Linked DNA regions of Homo sapiens. The protein of the gene in region 1 purifies or fractionates together with the protein of each later gene. This does not show direct contact. Each region holds a gene or a part of one and is shown on either strand. Other genes may lie near its edges. The genes, in order: LHX9 and ANKRD17.

Region 1 (3,827 bases):
GTCGCTTTTGTCTTGGTCCCAAAGGAGGGAAAAATTGCTTAGGCCCCCTTAGCCCGAAGAGTTTGTACCTCGCACCACTACAAACTGGATGCCTCTTAGTTAACATCTACTCCATCCTTTCTGGACTTTTCCCAGAGATACTATTCAATAGTATATATATTTTAAAGATCAGGTTAAAATTATCTATGGGAATTGGTTTGAAGATGCCTGACCAGAAATCAGGCCATCATTTAAAACAGTGCTTGCGAATCTGATGCCACTTTGTTCCAAAACTAGGGAAAGAAACCCTTCAGCAAATTAAACACGCGTTAAAATGTAAAAAAATAAAATAAATCCAGTTTTAACTCGTTATTTTAGCCTTCTTTGGATTTTGTCTTGCTATCTTTCATTAAATGTAAACATTAAATGTAAACAAGTCTCATAAAGGGTAAGGTTGATACTAAACTAAGTATAATTTACACAATATGTTTTCAAAATGTGCAGAAAACATGTTTGTGATTCAAAGAATCTCAGAGAAGATGTGAAACTTGGCAAAGGCCAGCTAGTGCTTGATAGGGCAAATGCCTTTTAATGAGAATGTCCCTAGTTTTGTTTATACCTCTGTGCAAATTAATCAGGCAAATATTTTAGAAAGAGACATGGAAAGTTTACCTGAAATGCTAGCTTGAAATAAAGCCCTCTAGGGATGAGAAGAAGATTTAGTTTAGGATAGGAAGCTCTTATTTGTGTAATTTAAACATTAATTGAGAGATTAAACTTTTGCCACTTCTCAAAATATCCTTTCCTTAAGCCCTTTCTTCCTATCCAAACTTTTAAGGCTCCTGGTGGTTAAATTAGCCTGGCACTGACCCCTAGTGGTCTTCCAGGGATCACTTCATTCTCAGAAGGTTACATACCTTCACAGCGACACTCACTTTAGGATGGGTGCCCATCGCATAAGTGACTGGAAATAAAATACTTAGATCTTCTCATTAACTTATAATACTGGATGTGAACTGACAGGTAGATATTTAAGACAGTTTTAAGAGTTATCATTTCATCTCATAATTCGGGGAGTGGGGGAATCCCCTACAGCTTTAGCAATAGGCCTTGGAGAAACAGTCATTTGCAAGTTTATATAATGCATGTGTAGTTAAACATAAATAATATCAGATAATGCACTGTTACTCTGTAGAAGAAATAGCTTTCTCTATTAAGTTGCATAATATGAGATAACAGTCACAGGAAAATCATATATAGTAATATCTGTTTAATAAAGACCCAACGAGCTATCTCCTTACATATTGGATTGTGTATTTTATGTGGAAACAGGGCCTATAACTGTATTTTACACACTAAAAGGCTCTGCTGAGTTTTTAATCAGCAATAATGGATATAGAATGCGTTTTAAGGGAAGCCATTTCATTAAATCTTACTACAATTATTTTTCATAAATTTCATTTTAAGAACTAATGATTATATAGTCAGGTTGGGAATCATATTCATTTCTATATATTACCTTGGTGTGGAGTGGGGGAAAGATGGCCAAGGGCATTATTTAAACACCAAGTCCTCTGTCCCAAGTGTGAAATTCAATTTGATGTATTGTTCAGGAAAGGTTACATGTTACATATGATAGGAAAGAAATCTGAGTTGAAGAACCCTCCGATGACTAACATGTGCCCCTTTGACTATTTTTTGTGGGTATATTTATAATCTGGTTATGAAATATGGCTGAGTTTACTGGAGATAAGTATAGTTTTATAGTAGGTCATAGAGATGCTGTTTCATCCATTTGAGGATATGAAAGTGCAATTCTGTAGAATATTTGAACTTGACATATCCCCACTGGGCCAAAATAGGATAAAATGTAATGCATACTCTTTCTGTTATCTCTGGACATATGGTAGCCTTTCTGGTGGAGTTTAGGAAGCCTATGTTTTACATTCGAATGTATATATCTGACTTGGATTCCACTTCAAGTTGATTTAATTTCGCATTAATACTCACTTGTAATTTACTGATGAACAAAGGGCCCAACATCTTGATTGAATGCTTCTTGAGCTCCTACCCCTGTGTTTGACTCAGGGAATCAATTCAAAGTTGAATATGGTATAGTCAGTTCCCTCAATGAACTCACCTGTTCTTTTGCCAAGTGTGTCCTCCTACTTATGCGTCTTATGGAAATACAAACAAAGGAGACATTTGTTTGTGTCTAGTCTTTTTACATTAGGAAGAATTTCTTGTTAAGTGAGTTTTATATGTGGCTGCCTTCTTGGGTGATGACTACAAAACTTCTGTATTTCTGTAAATATGCTGATTTGCTGAATATTTTTTAAAAAGTAATTCTAAACAGAGCCTAGCAGGCAGATAACATTGTATTAAGCAGAACATTTTATTAAGCAGATTGGAAGAGCTCACATTAAGGGATGCCTCCCTTTTTTAAGATTCAGGTTTCTTTCTCCCTGGAATGACATGATCAGGTTGGTTTTAGATTTTCTATTATAAAGCAGTACAAGGCAGGATGATCAGATCTAAATTTATATAACTATCTGAAGGAAGAATTTAAAGAAAAAAAATTACCATGCTCTTTAATTTGTGAAGTTGGCTGAAGTTGGTTGTGTAAATATTTCACAAAATGTTTTCATTTTACAATTGTATTTCCTATGCAGAGCCAGTAGATTCTTGGAAATGACCCTTTAAAAGTGTAGCTTTACATCCTGGGGATAATGACTTTCTGGCTGGTTTCAAAGACTGGGTTGTTTTGCCCTTGGTGCTAAGAAAGTCTTTGTAAGGGAAGAGAAAATGCCGCCCTCTCTCTGCCAGGCCAGCCAGGGGCACAGCTCACATCCCACTCACACACATCTGGAGCAAAAGGGACTAAGATCTGAGCCTAGAAATAAGCACCATCAGTATCTCTCAACTGTGAGCTGTGGGGAGCGCTTCAGGCGTGAACCGTGTGAAGGGAAGTCTGGGCTCATTCTCTTTCAGAAATATTTATTAAAATCACTCCAGGGGAAAAATATTTTCTTTCTGGTATAGCCCTGTGTTAACCAGTCATAGCTAAAAGCTGAAACAAATAATATTCTTATGTTTACATAAGAAATTCACAAATTTTGAATTTCTAACTTCTCCTCCTTTTTCAGCCTTTTCTAACTTTTTCCTGACTGACGGAGCTCTAGGAATATGAGAAAAGGCTAACCCTTAGAATTGACCTAGATGCTTCCTTAGTTGGTGGGCTCTCAGAAACTTTCAGACTTGAGGGAGTAGTAATACTTGTTTCTCTACGTCTCATGACAAAAAGCAATACCTTCAGACAGTGTGTCTCATTCCAGAAATATAGACAAAAGGTAGAGTCTTAAAACACTGTGAGTGTGGGCAGTGGGGAGCTGGTACAAATAACTATATTAGAAAAGGGTTTCTTCTTCTCACTCTCGTAGGTCTCTCTCACTCCCACCTTACTACTTAGGGTTTGTTCATATTCTCAAATTCTTCTAGCAACCATTAAACAAAAGAGAGGATTTAACCAATATTTTTCTATTGCATAAACTTTGGTTGTGTCTACATTAACAGAAGAGTTCAGCTTACTTTAGCAATTATCTTCTTTCTTTTTGTCTAGATACTACTCATAATTGGGTTGACAACCTTTTTCACTGCTGCTTTATTACCATAGCAGTGTCATACAGCCTGCCATCATGTCAGCTAATGCAAGAATTTCCACTGAGCAGTTGTTTGTTCACTGTTACTGCAACAGGTTGTAATGAGAATGAGGCAGACCACTTGGACCGGGACCAGCAGCCTTATCCACCCTCGCAGAAGACCAAGCGCATGCGAACCTCTTTCAAGCA
Region 2 (3,827 bases), on another chromosome or scaffold:
AAAATAAAACTTGGATGGGTGCCTATCCTTAATCCAATAGTTGTGCAGAGAGGGAGCAGAAAACAGGGTCATCTGATAAAAACTATGACTAGAGGGGTGGCAGAATCTGTGCAGAGAGTAAACTTCTTAAATGGCGCAGCTCAGCGGGCAAGCCTAGTAATTCTGTTTATTAAAATAGAATGTGTAGGAGGCTGAGGTGGGAGGATGGCTTGAGGCCAGGAGTTTGAGGCTGCAGTGCACTGTGATTGTGCCTGTGAATAGTCACTGTACTTCAGTGTGGGCATCATAGTGAGACCGTCTCATAAAAAACAAAACAATGTGGAAGGTTGTTGTTATTTTGCTCTACTTTGGTTCTAGAAGGATACAGGAAATAAAAGGGAAACCAGAGTGAACACAGAGGTTAAGGTAGGCTCCCAGGGATGAACCTAGGGGAAAGCAGGATTCATTTGTTTATCCTTCTTTCCTTCCTGCCTGCCTGCCCTGACTATGTCTTGATGTTAGTTGTTCTGGGTTGATTTTTCCTAGAGGTTTAGGTGTGGCCTTTCAATATGTAGGTTTTTAAAAAACAAGCTTTTGTTATTTATCTTTGTGTTTACATTTACATGTCTGTGTATTCCTTGTAGTTTTTGTCTGTTTTCTACTGCATGTATAATTGCAGAATTTGGTTTTATTTGGTCTTTAGCTAAAATATTCTTTTACTTCTAACACTTTCCTGAGTTTTGTCATATTGTTTCCGTTTTACTAATTCTGAATTATGCTGTTCCTTCATATCATTTTCTTTTCGTTCATTTTTGAATTTTAGGTTATAGCTTTTTTTCTGGAGTGCTTTTATTGTCAACAGGAATGCTATAGGTCTTTCTCTTTTATCTTATATAATAGGCTTATTTGGAATTCAACTGCAGTTCTGTTGAATCTGCAGGTAACAGTTTTGATTTTTAAGCTTCAGACTCCTTTATTATTTATACCATTTTAGTTTAAATGTGCTTTAATATTTAAGCTTTTTTGGGAGGGGGAGGGGGGATGGAGTCATCTTGCTCTGTCACCCAGGCTGGAGTGCAGTGACACGATCTCGGCTCACTGCATCCTCCGCCTCCCGGGTTCAAGTGATTCGTCTGCCTCAGCCTCCTGAGTAGCTGGGACTACAGGCGCGTGCCACCACGCCCGGCTAATTTTTGTATTTTTAGTAGAGACAGGGTATCACCATATTGGCCCCTCGAACTCCTGATCCCATGATCCGCCCGCCTTGGCCTCCCAAAGTGCTGTGATTACAGGTGTGTGCCACCGCGCCCGGCCAATATTTAAGCTTTTCACATAAAATATAATTTTGGTTATTTTTGTTTTTTCTCAATAATGTATAGAGATTGAATCACTAATGAATAGTCTCAAATCAAGAAATCCACCTTGTTTGCATAAGTAAAAAAGATTCTCATTACCAAAAGCATGTTCTGTGAAGTACTCACAAGATAAAATAAAACAGACTTAGGCAATGATCCTCTTATTGGTATTTTATCAGTATATATAATGTTCTATAAACTTCAGTTCTAATTTGAAGAAACTTTTTTTTTTTAAACTGGACATGATGGCTCATCCCAGTAGTCCCAGCTGTTCAGGAGGTTGGGGTGGGAGGATCGCTTGAGCCCAAGAGTTTGAGGCTGCAGTGAGTTATGATCGAGCCTCTGCACTCTAGCCTGGACAATGGAGCAAGACTCTGTCTCCAAAAATACATAAATAAAATAAATAAAAAATGAATAAATAACAAAGAAACGTATTTCTTTTTCCTAGGCTAGGTTTTCCAAATTTATTAGATAGCTGAATCTCTTTTTCATCATAACACAAAGAGCAAGTATTCCCAGGGAATACAGTTTGGAGATTGCCACTACAGGCAGTGATTCTTACCCATCTCCATTCTGTTGTTGTTGGTTTGTTTTTTAATTTAAATGTCTTATTGCTTGCTACATTTTACTTAATGTCAAGGGTTAATTCATTTGAATATTATTTAATTTAATGGTTTATTACCTTTGTAGTTGAACATTTTGCAGCATTGACATCATATTCTACCTTGAAGTCATGGAACTTTAGCCAAATTTTAATATGCATCATTTTTAAGTATTATTTTTACACTTTGTTTTTCTGAGAATATATATTTAAAACATCTCCTGGTTTTAAGATTTGGTTTTATAAAATTACATGTTCTATAGATGACCTGTATTTTATTTCAAAATATCTCTTCTCTAGATTCTTCTGCACAGTCAGTATCCTCGGGAGTTCGTGCACCATCTCCTGCCCCATCATCAGTACCGTTAGGGTCAGAAAAGCCCAGCAATGTGTCTCAGGACAGGAAAGTTCCAGTCCCTATTGGGACTGAACGTTCTGCACGTATCAGGCAAACTGGAACGTCAGCTCCATCTGTTATTGGGAGCAATTTGTCTACATCAGTAGGACATAGTGGCATCTGGTCCTTTGAAGGGATTGGTGGCAATCAAGGTAGGATATTCTGTCCTGCTCTCTAGAAATTAACTTAATGCATTTAACTATAATGTAAACAGTATTTAACTTTAATAGTCATTTCCTTTTTTTTTTTCTTTTTTTGAGATGGAGTTTCACTTGTTGCTCAGGCTGGAGTGCAATGGGGTGATCTTGGTTCACTGCAACCTCCACCTCCCCGGTTCAAGCGATTCTCCTGCCACAGCCTCCCAAGTAGCTGGGATTACAGGCATGCGCCACCATGCCCAGCTAATTTTTTTTTTTTGAGACGGAGTCTCGCTCTGTAACCCAGGCCGGACTGCAGCGGCACAATCTCTGCTCACTGCAAGCTCCGCCTCCCGGGTTCATGCCATTCTCCTGCCTCATCCTCCCAAGTAGCTGAGACTACAGGCGCCCGCCACCACGCCCGGCTAATTTTTGTATTTTTAGTAGAGACGGGGTTTCACCGTGTTAGCCAGGATGGTCACGATCTCCTGACCTTGTGATCCGCCCGCCTCGGTCTCCCAAAGTGCTGGGATTACAGGCGTGAGCCACTGTGCCCCGCCTGTATTTTTAGTAGAGACAGGGTTTCACCATGTTGATCAGGCTGGTATCAAACTCCTGACTTCAAGTGACTCACCCACCTCAGCCTCCCAAAGTGCTGGCATTACAGGCATGAGCCACCACGCCCAGCCTCGTAGTCATTTCTAAAAGATCTGTATTCCTATTTTTTTTGTTATGTGAATATTTAATCACTTCTTTATGAGCTCTGTCCCCATGTGACCTTTCTCATTACATGTATTTATTACTGCTTTCAGAAAATATCTAATGCAAGCATGTTCTTTTCTTCCTTTCATCATATTAAGGACATAATAATATTTCCTTTCAGTCCCTTTAGGTTGTACTTAGGTTTTTTTCTTTTGTTTTATAACACCAAGTTTTTAGATTATTTCATTAAGCTATTATGTCACTACTTACAAACCATGGAAATATTGCTGTAAATATATAAAAGTAGGTCATTATATTGAAATAATTTACGGTTCAATGTGGAAAATATTAGAAAAACAAAATATTTGATTTTGATTTTAAATATTATCTATTTTTGTTTTGCCTCTTTGTTTGCCCTCAGACAAAGTAGACTGGTGTAACCCTGGGATGGGAAATCCTATGATCCACAGACCGATGTCTGACCCAGGAGTATTTTCACAACATCAAGCAATGGAGCGAGATAGTACAGGAATTGTAACTCCTTCTGGTACATTCCATCAGCATGTTCCTGCAGGCTACATGGACTTTCCTAAAGTTGGGGTAAAGTCCTGATTTTGTACTAGTTATTTAAGGGAGGATTTTCTGAGAAAATGTTT

The links.
Region 2: the proteins of LHX9 (region 1) and ANKRD17 purify together in Homo sapiens (affinity purification with mass spectrometry, with the first as the bait; one large-scale study listed by BioGRID). This does not show direct contact.

Annotation. Positions count from the first base shown.
Region 1 is NC_000001.11:197,923,858-197,927,684, forward strand, and holds part of LHX9 (LIM/homeobox protein Lhx9), read left to right. Parts: intron 1-3,733; coding exon 3,734-3,827. UniProt on the Homo sapiens protein: Involved in gonadal development.
Region 2 is NC_000004.12:73,077,299-73,081,125, reverse strand, and holds part of ANKRD17 (ankyrin repeat domain-containing protein 17), read left to right. Parts: intron 1-2,235; coding exon 2,236-2,484; intron 2,485-3,592; coding exon 3,593-3,771; intron 3,772-3,827.